2 separate regions of the Homo sapiens genome follow, and region 2 is linked to region 1. The links come from fine-mapping of genetic effects on gene expression. A gene starts in region 1. The other region holds a variant in brackets. All regions are shown on one strand. Distances are from middle to middle.

Region 1 (4,400 bases):
GCAAATATCAGATAGACTAGATCGACTAAATACTACAGCAATATAACAATAGGAATGAAAAAGTTGCCAAATAATATAAACATGTAACTACAGACTTACAAGGAAATCATAGAAACTACTGGTCACTCCCTAACTTCATTCAGCTGCTCATTTGTCATCTCTCAGAGGCCTACCCTGACTACCCCATCTAAAATAGCTGCCCCTATCACACGCTATTCCTGAACTCTGACTTATTTCTTCCTCACAGCAGTTGCCACTATAAGCCATTATATTCTATAGGCGCATTTGCTGGACTGTTTGCCTCTCCACTAAAACATAAACTCCATGAGGGCAGAAGCTTGGTCGGTTTTCTTTCAACACAGGGCCTAGACACACAGCTGGCACTCAATACACAGGTGCTGAATAAAATACATGATAAAACTGAAACCCAGAGAGGTTAAAGGATTTCCTCAAGGTCACAGAGCTAGCAACAAACACAGCCCTTACTATAACCTTGTCTACTACAGCCTTGTGTGTTCGCTCTTTCCACAGCCACTTCCACTACACCAGAGCCTGTTCCAGCACATGATTCTATTTAACAGATTTCTCCTCTTCTTTTTTTTCTTAAGCGCCAAATACATGTTACCAAAAAAAGTGACACACTGGGTAGCATTTTAAACTCAAGTGTTTTGCCAACTAAAACTATACTCAAATTTCATAAGTATACAGGCTTAGCCCGTAAAACAGAAAGGCACAACTATTCATAGTTCTTTAAGTTCCTTTTGAAATTGGTGTGTATGCCCTGGAAGTTTTAAGAACAACCACTGAAAACCTATTCACCAATTCTGAATGGCTTGTAAAGTATCAGCCTCACTTTCATTCTTTTCAGAGCCCACAGTTATCTCCTCCCTGGATATACTTTATCTTGCAGATTATGCAAGGCAATGTAACTAACTTCAAAGTCCCTTTAGTTCCTTTTAAAGCACAAGAAAATCTCCCAAAACACTGAACATAAAATTAACCCTTGGGAAGTTTCAGATTCTGAGAACAGGAACCACCTCTTAACCATTCTCTCTGACTGCGATCATCTAGGTCCTTCATTCAAAATGCATTAATTGGAAATACCTAAAAGAAACGTGGGAGGGGGCCGGGGGGTCGGAAGAAAGTGGAGAACAGACATTTACATATATAAAAAAAGGGATCTGATATATGAATAACACTTTTGCCCAACGTCAACTTCTCGCCTCGACTCAAGGCCTGACACAACTTCTGTTGTCTTCTTGATCACCTTCCTTGAAGAGAGGGGCCAAAGCCGGCACGTTCTGCGGAGACTGTCTCTAGACCTAGGAAGGGGCACACCAGGGCAGCGGACGATTTGCTCCGCGTCTCTCAAAACTACTGCCAGCCCAATTAGTAAACCGAGAGGGCAGCCCTGAGATGCAGGATGGCCAGAGAGTTGAAATGAGTCTGGGAGTTAAGAGTGGGATGGGGCGGACGAACAGGCGTGGGGAGGGTAAACAACGCACCAGGAGCGGGAGTGAGAACAGGGTCGAGGTGGGGTCAGCGAAAGGCAAAAGGCGAAGAGAAGAAGGGGACGGGGCTCCGGGTGGGATGGGCGGCAGCAAAGGGGGAGGGGACGCGAGAAGGCTGGGGGAGGGGGAGAAGGGTCCGGGGCGGGGCGGAAGGGAGCAAAGAGGCGGGATGAAGACGGCCAGGCCGGGAGGGTCTTTACCTGCAGCTCCGCCCGCTCCACCTCCCACTGGGCTCTCTCCACCTCGAAGCGGGCCCACTCGTGCTGCAGGAAGTGCAGGATCCCCGGGAGACTGTACTGGGCTCGGGCCGCCCCCGCCGCAGCCGCCCCGTCGCCGGCCGCGGCAGCCTCCGCCAGAGGCCCGAGCCCCTTGGCACCGCCGGCGCCCGGGTGGTTGTTGCTGAAGAAGACGCCGGGACCCGCCTGCTCGTCCATGGCGGCCGCAGATACCCGGGGAGCTGCCCCGGCGCCCAGCAGCGGAGGCAACAGCGGCGGCAAGCAGCGCCTCCTCCTCCCTCCGCCGCTCCCGCCCACACCCCAGTCAGCAGGGAGCAGCCTCCTGGGCGCGGGGGCCGGCCGAGCCCGTGACGGGCCGGGAAATGGGTCAACTGCGGCGCGCTGGCGGCCCGGGGCTTGCCGGGAAATGTAGTCGCGGGGCGGGGCGCGGGCTAGCGCGGCCCGGGCGGCCTGTAGGGCTGTGCCTCAGCTTGGGCGTGGCCTCGGGCCCGCCCCGCCCCGGCTCGCCGCGTAGGGGGCCGGCTGGGCGGGGAGAGCGGGTTTCCTCTGGGGCCGGCTGGGCGCGGGCGGGCGGGTCTCCAGTCTTCCTCGCACGCGGAAGTTCGCGGGCGGCGCACCCTGTTGCATTCAAAAACACACACACACACACACACACACACACACGGAAGTTGTCACGCCAAGATACCTGCCCGAGCTGCACATCTTTTAAGGCTTCCTGGCCGTTCTGTGAAGGAACAGGCTCAAAGCGAGCTACCCGGTGCGGCCGCGGGACCGGGGTTCTCCCGCCAGCTGCCCTGCGTGCTCTCGCTTCGGCTTCGTGTTCGGAGTTTCTCTCACCCTAGACGCTCCTCCATTCTGCCAATCTGCGGGTCGCTGTCGCTCTTGCCTTTCTCTTTTGACTCGAGGGGCTCAAACCTGTTACCTGACCAGTTTTCATTTCTAAGGAACGCCGATCACCTTTCTAAGACAACGCCGCAGCTTTCTGCTGCTGCTTCCAAATTGTGGTTTGTTGACAGCCCATCTGAAAAACTGCTCCGTTGAAGTTTCTTTCCCTTTGCAGTCCTCCTGCAGTAAATCCTGTAAAAGTTTTAGCATCCAATAATAGATGTTCTGTTATTTCGGTCTCATTTTTCCTATCTTATTCCCGCTGATTTTTACTCTACTTAATTGAACAAATATTTTGATTATCGGTTTTCTCTTGCGCTGGGAATATTAAGATAAATGACATCGTTTCTGTCATCAAAGATTGGCGTATAATCAAATATCACAAAGGCTTAATTTAAAAGCTACACCACCTTGAAAAAGCAAGTTCCCTTTCTGCTCCCTAGCGCGGTCTTAGATATCCTGGCCCCTCTCCGTTTTCACTTGTCCTGTTCCCAGTTTCTTTCACGATTCACCTGCCAACTGGCAACAGCATCCGCCTACCAAAGGTACACCAAAGTCCTTTCAAGTTACTCTCTGTAAATATTTGCCTTCTCCGAAGTCTGACAATATGTCACTATAAATTCACACTACAACAGTGGCAAAAAGGAAGGCCCCTGAAAACAATTTAACAAATGCAAATGAAATTAAGCACTTATTTTGTCACCCTAACAAGTTATCTGAAATTCTTACGTTTTGTAGGACGTACTTGTGGGTTATCAGACTTGATGGCCATGAAAAAATGTAAAGATCTAGGCTGCTGAGTGACATGTCAGGGAAAGACATCCTGTCCCTGTCCTCTCTCCCCTCCCCCCCTTTCCCATGGCTACTTGCAGAAAGGACAGGAAACACATTGTGTCTGCTCTGGTTGCAAATAAAGATGGAGAACTCTCTTCTCTCGCTTAATTAATGTTTCTGCTTTATGAATTCATTCTTTATTATCATCAAAGATTGATCCAGGCCTGGCCAAATTCCCTGTGCCATAACTTATTTTGGCTGTCAGTGTCCTTTGAGATACAGCCCAGTCTTCTCATTTACAGCTCAAGGAACTAAATTCCAAAAAAATTGAGACTTGTCAACAATGAGGCCTTGAGTGAGACGACATATCCGACAATTCCTTTAAGTCAATTCATAGCAGACACAAAATGTAATTAAATGTATAGATAATCTGGACTACCACACATATACAAAAACTATTTTAATTCGTAGTTCAACTTTATTACTCACAATACTTTTTTTGCTTTACGAGGACTCATTTACATTTTGGCCAGGCGCCATGGCTCACGCCTGTAATCCCAGCACTTTGGGAGGCCGAGGCGGGTAGATCACTGGAGCCTGGGAGTTGTGGGCAGGAGGCAGGAGAATAGGGTCTGGAGGCAGGGAACGTAAAGTAGATTCAGGCTGACTACCTAGAACTGAATCAAATGGAAATACTTCAGCTATAACAGGAAATGTCCTCTCCACTTACATAGGGCGCACACCAACTAAATGACGTTGTAACTTTACTTCATCCTCTTCATTTACATAGGGCGCACACCAAGTAACCAGTGGAAACCTCTAGAGGGTATTCAAACCCCAGAAAATTCTGTAACGGGACTCTTGATCCCCTATGCTCGGGCCTGCCCCTGCACTGTGGAGCCTACTTTCATTTTCAACAAATCTCTGTTTTTGTTGCTTCATTCTTTCCTTGCTTTGTGCGCTTTCCCCAATTCTTTGTTCAAGATTTCAACAA
Region 2 (4,400 bases), 130 kb before region 1:
TAACAGGGAAATTGCAAAATAGGAATGAAGGACTAAAGACAGTTGTGGCAGAGAGAATTTGTTGGCTGGAATTTGTTATTTCCTATAGAGGCAGAAAAGTGAGATACTTTTTCTCAACATCCCTTAAACGTAGAGGAGGCCAACATTCTGGCCAATGAGATATGTGGGAAGTCTGTTGGAGGGCCTCTGGGAAGATTTCCTTTGCTGTCTGTATACAGTCAGCTTGGGCTTCCATAACAAAATATGATAGACTGGGTGACTTAAATAAACAAATTTTATTTTTCAGTCTGAAGGCTAGAAGTCCAAGATCAAGATGCCACCATGGTTGAGTTCTGGTGAGGCTCTCTTTATGGCTTACAGATAGCTCCCTTCTTGCTGTGTCCTCATCTGGCAAGGGGAGGCCAGGGGAGGGGAGGGGAGGGGAGGCAGTTCTACATGACACAAAATGCATGAGAGGTAGTTCTACATGACAAAGAATTGTCCCACTTAAAATGCCAAAATGCTTAAGAAACACTGATGTGACTGGTTCTCTATCAAAATAATGACAGACTATCTGGAAATATGCGAGGAAAATACTAACATTATTGATATAAGACCCTGAAATGGAAATTTAAGTAGTCTAAAAGTATAGAAATTAAATTGTAACGGCAAAACCAAAGACGCAGACAAAGAATGGGGAAAGGGAAAGTAACAGCATCTTTAAGCATCACTTATTTTGGAGAGGCACAGGAAGTGAATGTATTCTAAAAATCACATTTTTTTGTTTCAGGTTGGTAGGGGGTTAGTGAAGATTAGAGTGATTCTGTTTTTTCATAGAGTAGCAGGAAGATATCTGATTATGAATGAAGATAATTTTGAAAGAGAAACGCACAGTAGAAATCCCACATTAACATGAGAAAGACAGGAAGTGAATAATGACTTCATCAATCCAGCAAAAACGAAAAGAAACAATGAAGTAAAATAATGAACATAATAAAACAAAACCAGTGAACACCCAATATATCCACTGAAAGAAACTACCAGCCAGTTTCTTTCCTGGAAGACCTAGAAATAGGCAGCTTACAGGAAACACACTTAAAATGAAGGAATAAAGAAAAGTTGAAAGTAGAGACCCTTAAATAAAACAGTAAGACTAATCTATGAATATGCATGCTAAAGCTCCAAATAAAAGACTAGCAACTGAAACAAGGACTTATATGAAAACAACAACATATATGACCAAATAGGGTTTATTTCAAGGAGGCAAGCATGTTTTAATGTCAACTTCATACACACAATTGGTTAGTCAACAGCTTAAAGAAGAGTAACTCATGATCACATCAAAAGATGCTAAGAAGGCATTTGATGAAATTCAGCAGCCATTCTTTAAACCTGGAAAAACAGGAAAGAACCTATTTAAATAAAATAGAGATTATTTACCAAATAACAAGTAAAATACTCTAAATAACTAAATACCAAAACCATTTCCACTAAAGTTAATAATAGACAGGGAGGCCTACTTTTACCATTATAACTCAACACCACATTGGAGTTTCTAGACAACAAAAATTTCAAAAAAAGAATCAGTCAAACATTGAAAAAGACAAGATCAAATTATTTTTGTGAATGTCCCAATTGTATTTCTAAACATCTCGAGACTCTAGTGAAAACCTGCTATAATTCATGAGATTTAGTAAGCATTTACAATGTTTGTTGTATATAAGCATACAAAAACAGATTTTCTCTGTGTATTTTAAAATGTATTTTCTTAAATTTTTTTTTTTTTTTTTAAGAGATGGGGTTTTGCTATTTTGCCCAGGCTGGTCTGGAACTCCTGGGCTCAAGCAATCCTCCTACCTCAGCCTCCCAATGTGCTGGGATTACAGGCATGAGCCATGCACCTGGCTCCTCTCTTTATTTGTAATAAGCTCTTATAAATGAAAATGGTCACAATAGTGACCAAAATAAGAACATATTAAAAATTTTTTAAAGGCAAAGAACTTAAACTCTCAAATCTTACTAAAGATATAAATAAGATCCAAACAGAAAATGATATGTTGTTCTCAGATGGGAAGACAGTATTGTGGGTCAAACTTCCCCAAATTAATATGTAAATTTAATGTAATTTTAACTCCTAATTGGATTAAATTATTACAAACTTCAAATGCTGAGGATAGCCAACAAAGGCAGTAAAAAGAACAGTGGGCAGGGGCTTGGGAAGCGGAAAAGCTCTCCTGACCATATTATAAGGCCACCAATAACTGAATCCATATGATATTGTCATATGAAAGGAGAATTGTAAGTGAAACAGCATGGCATATTGAGAAATAAACCTCATTAAATATATAAATTTAATATATGACAATGCTGGTGTTTCAATTCATTGGGAAAAGGTTGTTTAATAGAGTGCTACACTGGCAACCCACTTGGAAGAAATTTAGTTGGACTGTTTGCATTC[TAC/T]ACACACACACACACACACACACACACACACACACACACACACAAATGGAGTAAAGACATAAATGTAGAAAACCAAAACCAAAAAACAAAAAATGTAGAAGCCATTCTAGCGGCCTATACATGCCACCCAGGAATGGAAACCTTCTTAATCAATAAAGAATACTTCCAAAAGCTTATAGTCACAAATGCCTATATTTTATATATAAGTATACTTGAAGATCTACTAATAAAAAGTTTTTCGGGTTTGTTTTTTTTGGGACATGATCTCACTGTCGCCCAGGCTGGAGTGCAGTGGAGCGATCTGGACTCCACCTGCTGGGCTCAAGCCATTCTCCTACCTCAGCCTCCAGGGTAACTGTTGTGCCACCATGCTCAGCTAGTATTTTAAAAATTGTATGTAGAAACGAGGTCTCACTATGTTGCCCATGCCAGTCTCAAACTCCTGGGCTCAAGCGATACTCCTGCCTCAGCCTTCCAACGTGCTGAAATTACAGGCGTGAGCCACCCTGCCAAGCCCTAATATAAAGTTTTAAATGAGAAAAGGTATTATAAACATGGTCAACAAAAATAATATAGTTTTGGAGAAAAACACTGGCAAATAGTAAGAAAAAGGGTTTACATGTAGTATAAAAAGAGCACCTGCAAATTTTAAAAAACACAGTGGAACATGGGCAAAACTTTAATAAAATAACAAAATAAACATTTTAAAATGCAAATATGCAATTCACTCAAGTGAAATTCAAAAGGCAAAGTTTTATTTGGAAAAAGTACTTTTGAATGTGGTCAACAGACAACTTACAAGAGTTGGAAAAAAATGTTTGCATCCAAGATAAGAAAATCTGAACATATATTGTACAACATACAAAATGCTTTCACAAACTAGTTAACTAAAAAGACAAACGGTACAAACATATGGACCAAAAATAAGAAAAATTTAAAAATGTATATAAAAGTATAACTACGAATATTTGTGGTAGGCAGAATTCTAAGATGGCCCCCATGAACTCTGCCCCTCATGTTACTTCCATGGTTGATGTTACATTGCAGGGCAGAGGGACTTGGCAGATGTAATTAAAGCTACTAATCAGTTGACCTTAACAATCTGGGTGTGCTTAAACTAGTCACAAGAGCCCTTTAAAAGCAGTTTTCTCTGGCTGGTAGAAGTAGAGTCAAAGTATAAAAATAATTTGATGCACCCTGGCAAGCTTTGAAGGTGGAAGGGACCACGTGCAAGGACCACGGAGCAACCTCTAAAGGATCAGATTTGACAGTCAGCTAGGAGACAGGGACCTCCATCCTCTGACTTTAATGAGGCTGGAAGCGAATTCCTCCTCAGAGCTTTAGTTGAGTACCCACCCTGGAAGACACTTTCATTTCAGCCTTGTTGGGCCTTGAACAGACAGCCCAGTTGAGTTTCCCTGGAGTTCTAACCTACAGAACTTTGAATAGATAATTCAGTTCTGAGTGCAATCCAGATGACCAAAACATTTGAAAAGATGTCTACATTTATAGTAGTCAGGAAAATGGAAATTAAAATAACACTGAAAAATCACTACATCCACCAGGATTTTTTTCTTTTTTCTACGTATTTTTTAATGTTACAATAGTTATTGCCATGAGTATTAAGGGAAAAGTGTTTTTATACATTTACTGATGGAAATAAAAACTGTTCCGGCCACTTTGGGAAACAATCTGTCAATATTTATTTAAAAATTTAAATATACATACTCCTCAATGCAGCAATCCTACTCCAGGGAATCTATTCCGCAGACGTAAAACCATCATGGTGACAAACATATACACAGGAATGTTTATTGTAATAATAAAAAGGAAATAAGAGCTATGATAGACTTAGAGAAATTCTCATCCTACATTGTTAAATGAGAAATGTGAGATGCAGAGAACGTACATGATCCCATTTATTTAAAGCAAACTGCCCACCAAAATATCTTCTCATTAAC

Alleles and levels. Positions count from the first base shown, and alleles are read on the strand shown. Sizes are in standard deviations (SD) of each study's normalised expression.
With allele TAC in place of T in region 2, the expression in regulatory T cells of the gene that starts at base 2,018 in region 1 is higher (large effect, 0.92 SD a copy in Bossini-Castillo 2019).

The links. PIP is the estimated chance that this variant, and not a neighbour inherited with it, causes the effect.
Region 2: its variant is fine-mapped to the expression of STRN in regulatory T cells (Bossini-Castillo 2019, PIP 0.95).

Annotation. Positions count from the first base shown.
Region 1 is chr2:36,964,519-36,968,918 of GRCh38, forward strand. STRN (striatin) reads right to left here and starts at 2,018. Exons shown (of 18, transcript NM_003162.4): 1 at 1,712-2,018. The coding sequence starts at 1,945. RefSeq lists a silencer at 1,699-2,508.
Region 2 is chr2:36,834,526-36,838,925 of GRCh38, forward strand. STRN (striatin) reads right to left here. Exons shown (of 18, transcript NM_003162.4): 18 at 3,173-4,400. Among named protein-coding and RNA genes, the nearest start is that of STRN, 130 kb to the right of the region's middle. The variant TAC/T (reference allele first, on the strand shown) is at 2,438.